Regions from separate parts of the Homo sapiens genome. Here region 2 is linked to region 1. The links come from fine-mapping of genetic effects on gene expression. A gene starts in region 1. The other region holds a variant in brackets. All regions are shown on one strand. Distances are between the middles of the regions.

Region 1 (5,384 bases):
ACCCGTCTCTTAGAACCTCTCATTTCCTTTCCATCGTGGAAATCTATCCTCAAGGAAATCACTTCTCAATGTTCCATCTGCTATTCTACTACCCTGCAGGGATTGTTCAGGCCCCCTCCCTTCCCTACACATCAAGCTCGGGGATTTGCCCCGCCGAGGACTGGCAAATTGACTTTACTCACATGCTTCAAGTCAGGAAACTAAAATACCTCTTGGTTTGGGTAGACATTTCACTGGGTGGGTAGAGGCCTTTCCCACAGGGTCTAAGAAGGCCACCGCGGTCATTTCTTCCCTTCTGTCAGACATAATTCCTCAGTTTGGCCTTCCCACCTCCTCTCTTTCCTTGAAAATCACTGAAGCCTCGACTTACTCACTGCTGAAAAAGGAGGACTTTGTATATTTTTAAATGAAGAGTGTTGTTTTTACCTAAATCAATCTGGCCTGGTATATGACAACATAAAAAAACTTAAGGATAGAGATAGAGCCCAAAAACTCTCCAACCAAGCAGACAACAACGTTGAACCCCCTTGGACACTCTCTAATTGGATGTCCTGGGTACTCCCAATTCTTAGTCCTTTAATACCTATTTTTCTCCTTCTTTTATTCGGACCTTGTGTCTTTCATTTAGTTTCTCAATTCATACAAAACTGCATCCAGGCCATCTCCAATAATTCTATACGACAAATGCTCCTTCTAACAACCCCACAATATCACCCCTTACCCCCAAATCTTTCTTCAGTTGAATCTCTCCCACTGTGGGTTCCCACGCCGCCCCTAATCTCGCTCGAAGCAGCCCTGAGAAACATCGCCTATTATCTCTCCATACCACCCCCAAAAATTTTCGCTGCCCCAACACTTTACCACTATTTTGTTTTATTTTTCTTATTAATATAAGAAGACAGGAATGTCAGGCCTCTGAGCCTAAGCTAAGCCATCATATCCCCAGTGACCTGCACATATACATCCAGATGGCCTGAAGCAACTGAAGATCCACAGAAGTGAAAATAGCCTTAACTGATAACATTCCACCATTGTGATTTGTTTCTGCCCCACCCTAACTGATCAATGTACTTTGTTGATCAGTAATCTCCCCCACCCTTAAGAAGGTTCTTTGTAATTCTCCCCACCCTTGAGAATGTACTTTGTGAGATCCAACCCCTGCCCCCAAAATATTGCTCTTAACTCCACCGCCTATCCCAAAACCTATAAGAACCAATGATAATCCCACCACCCTTTGCTGACTCCCTTTTCGGACTCGGCCCGCTTGCACCCAGGTGAAATAAACAGCTGTGTTGCTCACACAAAGCCTGTTTGGTAGTCTCTTCACACGGACATGTGAAACACTGTGGTCAATTTTTTTTCTTTTTAATAATAATTCTTTTTTAGAAATATGTGCTTAAATAATTGTAAGCCAGGCATAGTTGCCTGTGCCTGTATTCCTAACCACTTGGGAAGCTGAGGCAGGACTGCTTGAGCCCAGGGGTGTGAGGCTGCAGTAAGCTATGATCACGCCACTGAACTCCAGCCTGGGTGACAGTGAGACCGTGTTTAAAAATATATATATACAGATGAAATGATATGATGTCTGAGATTTGCTTCCAAATATGCCTAGGAAGGGAAGAAGTGTTTAGAGATATAGACAAATCAAGATTGTCAAAATGTATAGTAACTGTTAAAGCTTGCTAAGGTAGTTATTCTATTTTTGGATATGTTTGGAATTGTCCAAAGGTTTCCTAAAACTTATGTTTAATATTCTTTCAGGAGAAAGCAATATTGTAAGATCAAAGAAAAGGCCATAACAGCGCACCCAAAAAATTTCAGCATTACCATTCTGAGGGTCAGGAGTCTCCTCCCTTCCATCCGCCAACACTTGAATCAGGACTATAAAGTAGGTGTTTCCAAGTCTCAGGCAGGTAAATGGATAAATTGCAAAACTGGATGCAGAACTCACATCTGCCTCATACATAGGCCCTGTGACACCCCACCAGCTCCTTTGCTCCCTTTCTGCCTTTCTCATGCCGTCCCAGAGTCTTGCACACTACCAAGATGGTGGTGAGTCAGGACAGTGAAACAGGTCGGCTCTTCACTCCAGGAGTGTGCGCGGGCGCCGGGCCGCGCAGGCGCATTACTGCTCCCCTCCCCCGACCTTGGCTGATCGCGCCTGCGCAGTGGGGAGCAGCTCGCTCCTGGGCTTTGGGCTGGCTGCAGTCTGTCTGAGGGCGGCCGAAGTGGCTGGCTCATTTAAGATGAGGCTTCTGCTGCTTCTCCTAGTGGCGGCGTCTGCGATGGTCCGGAGCGAGGCCTCGGCCAATCTGGGCGGCGTGCCCAGCAAGAGATTAAAGATGCAGTACGCCACGGGGCCGCTGCTCAAGTTCCAGATTTGGTGAGTATGTGCACTGGGCCCCGGCCACCCCGCCGCGCCTCTGCTCGGCGCCATTGGCTACGCGAGGCCCCGGCTTCGCGGCCTAAATGGCCGCATCTTCGCTGGCCTCGTAGAACTGTGCCGGCGCCCTTCCACAGCCAGCCTTCTCGCGGCCCCTTAGCGCGGTCAGGCCGCCCTCCTTTTCCAGGTATAACTGCTCACTTGTTTTTTGCCTCCTAGAACAGTGGGAATGGGGAAGGAGGGCGCGAGAAGGTTAAACGCTGAAAGGCGAAGACTGGGGGACACCTGTTAGTACGGAGGACTGGTTGGCGGCGTCACGCCATAGCCACCCCGGCTGCCTGCGGAGATGGGGATGAGTAGGCGCCGCGTCGGCGGAGGAGCGCCAACCGTTTGTCAGTTCACTTTTTCTGCCCTCTTTTCCGGGGTAATGCCGGGCGGCTTCGCTGCCTGGCTAGATGAAGGTTAATTCGGGTCATTGGAGAGGATCCGGGAGTGACAGACGCCGTTTTTCTCCTGAACTTGCTGGGGGGACTGTTGAGTTTGCGAATGGGGCGTCTGACAGCTGGAGGGGGTGGAAGGAAGGTCTGGGGATGCTGGTTCTGTTTGCCATTTCCAAAGTGTCAGAAAAGGAGCACGTTGTTCTTCTAAACATTGACAGTTCGCTCGCATTCCCTCCTCACCTGCCTCCCAGGAGTTGCCTGCTCTGGCATCTCTTTCTACCTTTCAGTTGTCTTGTGTATCCAGCAGATCTCGGCAGTTTTCGACAGTGTTCTTTAAATGATTTTGTTTTTAACCTAATCGTTAGAAGCAGGGCAATGATGCATTTTATACGGTAAGTGGGGTTGCGGGTGGGGATTGAAAGGCTCTGAAGATGGGGGAAAAAACACCAAAATTGTAAAATTATAGAAATGAGAATCTTACACCTCCAAAGATGACATTTTCTCAGGATAAACCGACCATCCCAGAATAGCCAGATTAGTAAATCATCAGAGTCCGGATACATTGGAATGTTGGTGTTGGACATCATTCATTTAAAACCTTCTTTTAAGAACTTCATGTATTAGTATATTAAAGTTTTGATTTTCTACTTCTCCAACTAGCTTTTTACTTACTCACTGAAGACCAAGCAAACCTTTAAAATAATTTTTAAAAATCGGCTTAAGGTGATGTTTGAGTTAGAAAATAAGATGGTGAGACTTTATTTTTTTGAGTGAAAACTAAAACATTGCAATTTCTCCTGATTAAAAACAAACAAGGCCGGGCTCGCTGGCTCACGCCTGTAATCCCAGCACTTTGGAGGCCGAGGCTAGCGGATCACCTGAGGTCGGGAGTTCGAGACCAGCCTGACCAACATGGAGAAACCCCCATCTCTACTAAAAATACAAAAATTAGCCTGGCGTGGTGGCGCATGCCTGTAATCCCAACTACTTGGGAGGCTGAGGCAGGAGAATCGCTTGAACCCGGGAAGCGGAGGTTGCGGTGAGCCGAGAACGCGCCATTGCACTCCAGCCTGGGCAACAAGAGCGAAACTCCGTCTCAAAAAAAAAAAAAAAAACCTCCCTGTACAATGTACTATGTTTCTGGAATATATCATCTTTCATGTAATACTGCAAATGGGAGAATGGTTTATCCATTAACTTTTTTCCTTAATTTTTAAATTAGAAGGTGGTAATCATCTTACTAACCTAAAGATTGTTAAGGGTTGTGATACTTACGGATTTAAGTGTTAAAAAATTGCAGTTTTCAAATTATTTAATTTTTCTGTATCCTACTTTTATCTCTTGGTTGTATTTTTGCTTTTCCAAAATACCCCTTTTACGTTTGCTTTTTTTGGAACACTTGTCACAATAATTTACCAGGTGTATCTTCCACCAAGGCTATTCATAGCAAGGTTTTCAAAATGTGTAAACAAACGTAGGGAAGGGCATTCAGTCCTTCAAATTAAACTTAAAAAAAAAGTAGTAAGTACTTCAGTTAAACTTTTGATACTTTGTTTTTCTTTGTTTTTAAGTACAGACCTGTCCCAAAAGTCTAATAATTTTCTTTTACAGTCACTCTGAGCATGTTATATAACAAAAATGCTTCCATTTAAAAAATTATTTTTATTTTTATTTTTCTGACACTATCCACCGGAGATCATTTTTTGTTTAATCTGTAGATGGGAAATAACGTTATTAATAAGACCCACCAAATACAGATCAACTTAGCTTGTTGTTTGTTGCTTTTCCCCCCAGAGATTAATCTGTTTATGGTAAAGTGAATATTGGGTTTCTGGTTTTGCTAGAATCTTGTGGACATTAATTTGCAAGTTTGTTTGAGAAAGGACAGGAAGCTAATACGTTTGAGGATAAACATGAGAATTTTAAAATTCCATTTGAAGTCAGTATTATAAAATGCAGCTTTTCATTAATTACCACTGCTAACAATCAAAAGAGAACTATTTTACCTTCATTTCCACTGACTTTTTCCCCTTATAGTGATCATGAGTATTTTATCAAAAATAACTATACCTCAATATATCACCTGGTAATTGTACCACTTTTGCAATTGTTAGTCAACACAATAGCAACATAGTGCTGAGAGATCAAGCTTGTAGAGTAGCTTACGACAGAGTTTCCTATTCTCGTTTTTTTTTTTCCTTTCTTTCTTCCTTTTTTTTTTTTTTTGCTGAGACAGAGTCCCGCTGTGTCACCCAGTTTGGAGTGCAATGGCATGATCACGGAGCCTTGACTTCCTGAGTTCCGATAATCCTCCCACCACAGCCTCCCAAGTAGCTGGGACTGCAGACGCGCACCACCACGCCTGGCTAATTTTCATATTTTTTGTAGAGACCTGGTCTTGCCTTGTTGCCCAGGCTGTGTGTAATACCTGCTGTATGCCAGGAATTAAGCATGCTAAAGATGTGACCATCTCAAGAAGTCTACCAGACTGGCACAGTATTACTTGTGTATCTGAGTCTGTGGTTTATTATGTTGATTGAGCAATATAATTAGATACTTTT
Region 2 (5,384 bases), 25 kb after region 1:
CCCATCCTCCCTTATATCACTCCTCTTCTATATTTCCCTCAGCTATGCTGATTTTCTCTTATTTTCAGTGCCAAGCTACTTTCTGGTCTTTACATTTCTGTTCTCTCCCTCAAAGGTTTTCTACTCTCATGAATCCCCACTCTGTCTTGGTAATTTTTCTTTATCTTTTAGATCTCAATTTAAATGATACTATTTCTCTGACTAGACAGGGAGAGCCTTGTGTATATGTCCCTCCTAGTACAGTAGTGCCTTTTAGTTTTAGTTCTAAGTACACAATTGTAATTTTGTAGCCATTTGTGTAGTTCTTTTGACATTTCCCCTACTGGAATGTAAAGTCCCTGAGAGCAAGCAGTGTACTTTTTTGCCTACTTTTGTATCCCAGTTGTGTACATAGATGATAAATATTAGTGGGATGAATGCATATTATAAAATCATCTTTAATTTTTTGGGGGGCGGTGCCATTTATTTTTATAGATGTACCTGTGTGGTCTAAGCTGGAATCTGGTCACCTTCCATCCATGCAACAACTTGTTCAAATTCTTGACAATGAAATGAAGCTCAATGTGCATATGGATTCAATCCCACACCATCGATCATAGCACCACCTATCAGCACTGAAAACTCTTTTGTAAGTTGTTTAAAATATAGCTAATGTATAGGTTTCTGTTGATTCTTATGACTCAGCAAGTTAGTAAATATTACATATATTATCACTTGAGTTTCCAATTTAAGATTAAACAGAGGGATGTATTCTTCATTAAAATGTTGAAGTGTATGAAGAGAGTTCGGCCCTGCCAAAATAAAGTCAGGTTGTTAGTAATTTTATCTTCAAGGCTTAATGATTGGGTCTGTAACCTTATTTTCTTTACTCTAAATTCCTAATGGCCAGAGTTGATATATTATGCTAGAGGTGTGTATACTTCCTGTCCTTACCTTCAAGTAATTAGTTCCTGGGAGTATGCAAATTCTTTGAACATACTCAAGATAAAAAATTTATAGGCAAATGTGTGAACACAGAGAGGTATTAGTTAACTTTTTCTTTGTGATCAATGAATTCACTTTCTAAAGAGTTTTTATGAGTGATTTTTGCAATAAAATATTCTTTTTTCTGTATATCTTTCAGGCATTAAGGGATCATTGCAAGAGCAGCGTGACTGACATTATGAAGGCCTGTACTGAAGACAGCAAGCTGTTAGTACAGACCAGATGCTTTCTTGGCAGGCTCGTTGTACCTCTTGGAAAACCTCAATGCAAGATAGTGTTTCAGTGCTGGCATATTTTGGAATTCTGCACATTCATGGAGTGCAATAATACTGTATAGCTTTCCCCACCTCCCACAAAATCACCCAGTTAATGTGTGTGTGTGTTTTTTTTTTAAGGTAAACATTACTACTTGTAACTTTTTTTCTTAGTCATATTTGAAAAAGTAGAAAATTGAGTTACAATTTGATTTTTTTTCCAAAGATGTCTGTTAAATCTGTTGTGCTTTTATATGAATATTTGTTTTTTATAGTTTAAAATTGATCCTTTGGGAATCCAGTTGAAGTTCCCAAATACTTTATAAGAGTTTATCAGACATCTCTAATTTGGCCATGTCCAGTTTATACAGTTTACAAAATATAGCAGATGCAAGATTATGGGGGAAATCCTATATTCAGAGTACTCTATAAATTTTTGTGTATGTGTGTATGTGCGTGTGATTACCAGAGAACTACTAAAAAAACCAACTGCTTTTTAAATCCTATTGTGTAGTTAAAGTGTCATGCCTTGACCAATCTAATGAATTGATTAATTAACTGGGCCTTTATACTTAACTAAATAAAAAACTAAGCAGATATGAGTTAAATTTAAAAGTTTCAATTTATTGCTCAGTGTACCTGTTAACATTATATTTAACAATTGCTTAAATTTTTGTTTTTGATTTATGGATAATTTCTTAAGAGTACACACTTTAGATACACAAATAATCGTTCATTTACCATCTTTAGGATCATTGAAACTCATCTCACTAAAGAAAGTTCACTTGAACCTCTTTATAGCATTGATACTAGGTGAACAGAAATTACCTGACTAATAATTTGTCTAACATCATATATCAGAATTTTATTGTATATGATGAACAAAACTTAAAATTTTTTAAATTTAATT[T/C]TTAAATACTGTTTCAGAGTTCTAAAAAGGCAGTTTTTTAAAAAACTTAAGTTGATAAAAACTGTAAGAATAATTTAGCAGAAATAGAACCAGAATGTAGAAGAGTAGTCATGTAACAGCAGTAATAACATACTTCAGCTTCCATATAGGAATAGAAGTGGTAGAGCCAAAAGTGATTTAGGAAAAGTTATAAGGTACAGGTTGAGTATCCCTTTTCCAAAAATGCTTGGGACAAGAAGTATTTCAGATTTCATAATTTTTTTCAAAGTTTGGAATATTTGCATTATACTTACCAGTTGGGCATCCCAAATCTGAAATCTGAAATGTTCCATGAGCATTTCCTTTGAGTGTCATGTTGGCACTCAAAAAGGTTCAACATTGAGTCCACTTAACACTTAGGTGTTAGAAGACCTAACTTTCTGTAACAATTAACCTTATACTTTGTTTGTCATCGAATATTTGTTGAATGCATGTCAGGTAATGGTCTTGATTGTGATAGCTTCAAGGTGGAACATACTGTAATCTCCAGATGCTAGGAAGTTAGTCTAATAATTCACTGCAGAAAATTGATTAAGTGGCTGTCCTTTTAATTAAGAGTGTGGAGTCATAAACTTAAGTTCTTCATATAGTGACAAGAGTCCTTAGAGATTGTTATTCAAGTTCCTTAGAAATTGTTATTTAGGTATAATATCATCTTGTCTTTGACTAGAGCTTGAAACCTTGTTATCTGATTGTGTACCACTCCAAATTCCCTGCCTTCTGCAAGTTGAATGTCTTGCTGAATGTGTCTAGGGGTTCATCTTCAGTAATCGACATTCCACTAGTGCCATAGTTAACTTCATGACATGTAGACATTCAAAACTTGAGCCTTGGATGTTCCTGTGGACCTGACAGTTAAAAATATAAAGAACCTAGGATTCAATTCCAACTTTCTCTGTTTGCCTTGGGTTGAATAACTTATCTTTTGGAGAATAGCTTTAAGTGGCTTAGACACTGATAAAATTCAGCTGTGTTGTTGACGCTCATCTCTTTTGTCTTACGCTTAGCCATATTTAAATCTTGAATTTAATAGAGTCTAGTGAAAAAAATGAGTGGGAAGAATGAATATAAAAGTAATAATATAAGGAAAAAGGGAAAGTAAACTATTTAGAATGTAGTTTTGTTATATTCCCAGCATTTCAATATTTATTAGTTACTTGTAAATTACTGTGGCTGTGTAGTTTATAAATGTCTGTGCACTATATTAATTAGAAGACCATAGAACATGCCAGCAGGTTGGCTAATGCTATGGGGGTTTTTACCACAGTTGCCATTGTGGAAGAAATTATTTGGTACATTAATAAAAAAAGTTGGTAAAACATGGTTTTATACCTCAGTGTATAAGATGTGCAAGACAAATATGCTTATTTCCTTTTCTAGAATATAAGTGATATTATTTGCTTATGACACTAACACTATTAATGACAGGAGTCAATCAGCCTTTACAGCTATCAAAATATAATGAGATCCCAATGATGATTCTTTTTTACTTTGAATGTTAATTAGTTTGGGACTTTGATTGGCTGGCAAACATTTTATCATTGTCAGAATTTAATTTAGATTTCAAAAATAGCTTACAGGATTTTAAACATGGTGTGGTATTCTAAAGCCTTTTTTTTAAAAAAAGAGATCTTTTTGAGAGAAACAAATGAGGATTGTAAAGTTTGGGGACTTACCTCTGTAGCATTGTGAAAATAAACTTTGATTAAGCTGATTTGAAAGGAACTCCTACTTTGTGGAATTAAATCTACATTAGAGCACTTTATATGGTAACTATACTCACAAAATTTTGCATTATAAAAGTTATTATCATTACTTTTTAATGGCTTCTTAACCCGACCAGTGTTTATGACTCACTATCAGTCTGGCACTCAAGTCTTACCATACTCTTGGACCTTATGCTACTTCTCAAGCCTTACGGTCTACTTGTGCTTCAGTGCTGCTGAACTGTCAATAGCTCTGTGATGTATTCTGTGCTGGAGTGGAGCAAAGTGGAACAGTTTACATCACTGTCTGTCTTTACCCCCAACCTGCAGAATTCCTGAAACATTCACACTAACATCCTTAAATCTGGAGAGAAACAAAATGAATGTTTTTCCTCTATTGACTGGTATAGACAATTTAACAATCTCAGAAGAAAGAGCAAATATCAGATTTTTTTTTTTTAATTCAGCTGGCTCCTTTTCCCCTAGGCTTCAGAAAAGCAAATAGAAACAAATAGATCCACAGCCCAGGTGCAGTGGCTCATGGCTGGGAGACCAAGATGGGTGGATTGCTTGAGCCGAGGAATTCAAGACCAGCCTAGGCAACAAGGTGAAACTCCATCTCTACAAAAAAAAAATTAGCCAGGCATGGTAGCATGCACCTGTAGGCCCAGCTACTTGGGATGCTGAGACAGCAGGATCGCTTGAGCCCAGGAGGTTGAGGCTGCAGTGAGTCAAGATTGCACCACTGCAGGTGACAGGGCAAGACCCTGCCTCAAAAAAAAAAAAAAAAAAAAAAAACCCAGCTCCAAACTGTATCTTGAAGAAAAATATAAACTGGTTTCAGATACAGTAGAAAGCTGTAAAGTCATCCATTCTATAAGACTAACAGAATGTTTTCTTTTGCCAATGTTAAGCATGAGCAAAATAAAAAAGCATGCAGACAAACAGTAGTGGTTTTAAAATTTTAATGTGCTTAAAAATCACTGGGACAAATTTCTGGATCCCACTCCTAATGGTTCTGATTTAGTTGATCTGAAATGGTACCAGGTAATTTGCATTTCAAACAAGCTTCAAAATAATTCTAATACTGTTAGTCTGTGGTGTATACCAGGAGTCCCCAGTCCTTGGGCCATGGACTGGTGGTGGTCTGTGGCCTCTTAGAAAACCAGCCGCACACCAGCAGGTGAGTGTCAGGCAAGCAAGCATTACCTCCTGAGCTTTGCCTCCTGTCAGACCAGTGCATTAGATTCTCATAGGAGCCAGAATCCTATTGTGAACAGTGCCTGCGAGGGATCTAGGTTGTGCGCTCCTTATGAGAATCCTAATACCTGATGATCTGAGGTGGAACCTAATACCTGATGATCTGAGTTTCATCCCAAAACCATCCCCCCAACCCCCTGTCCGTTTATGGAAAATTTGTCTTCCACAAAAGCAGTCCCTGGTGCCAGAAAAGGTTGGGGACCGCTGGTCTACACTGAGTAGCACCATACC

What was found.
Region 2: its variant is fine-mapped to the expression of SELENOT in whole blood (INTERVAL, PIP 0.95).

Annotation. Positions count from the first base shown.
Region 1 is chr3:150,601,117-150,606,500 of GRCh38, forward strand. SELENOT (selenoprotein T) reads left to right here and starts at 2,205. Exons shown (of 6, transcript NM_016275.5): 1 at 2,205-2,383. The coding sequence starts at 2,247. LOC124900547 (a long non-coding RNA gene) reads right to left here and starts at 2,067. Exons shown (of 2, transcript XR_007096128.1): 1 at 1,828-2,067. RefSeq lists enhancers at 1,994-2,073, 2,194-2,343, 2,316-3,089, 2,364-2,663.
Region 2 is chr3:150,626,536-150,631,919 of GRCh38, forward strand. It overlaps SELENOT (selenoprotein T), which reads left to right. Exons shown (of 6, transcript NM_016275.5): 5 at 475-628; 6 at 1,124-3,901. The coding sequence ends at 599. Among named protein-coding and RNA genes, the nearest start is that of SELENOT, 26 kb to the left of the region's middle. The variant T/C (reference allele first, on the strand shown) is at 2,149.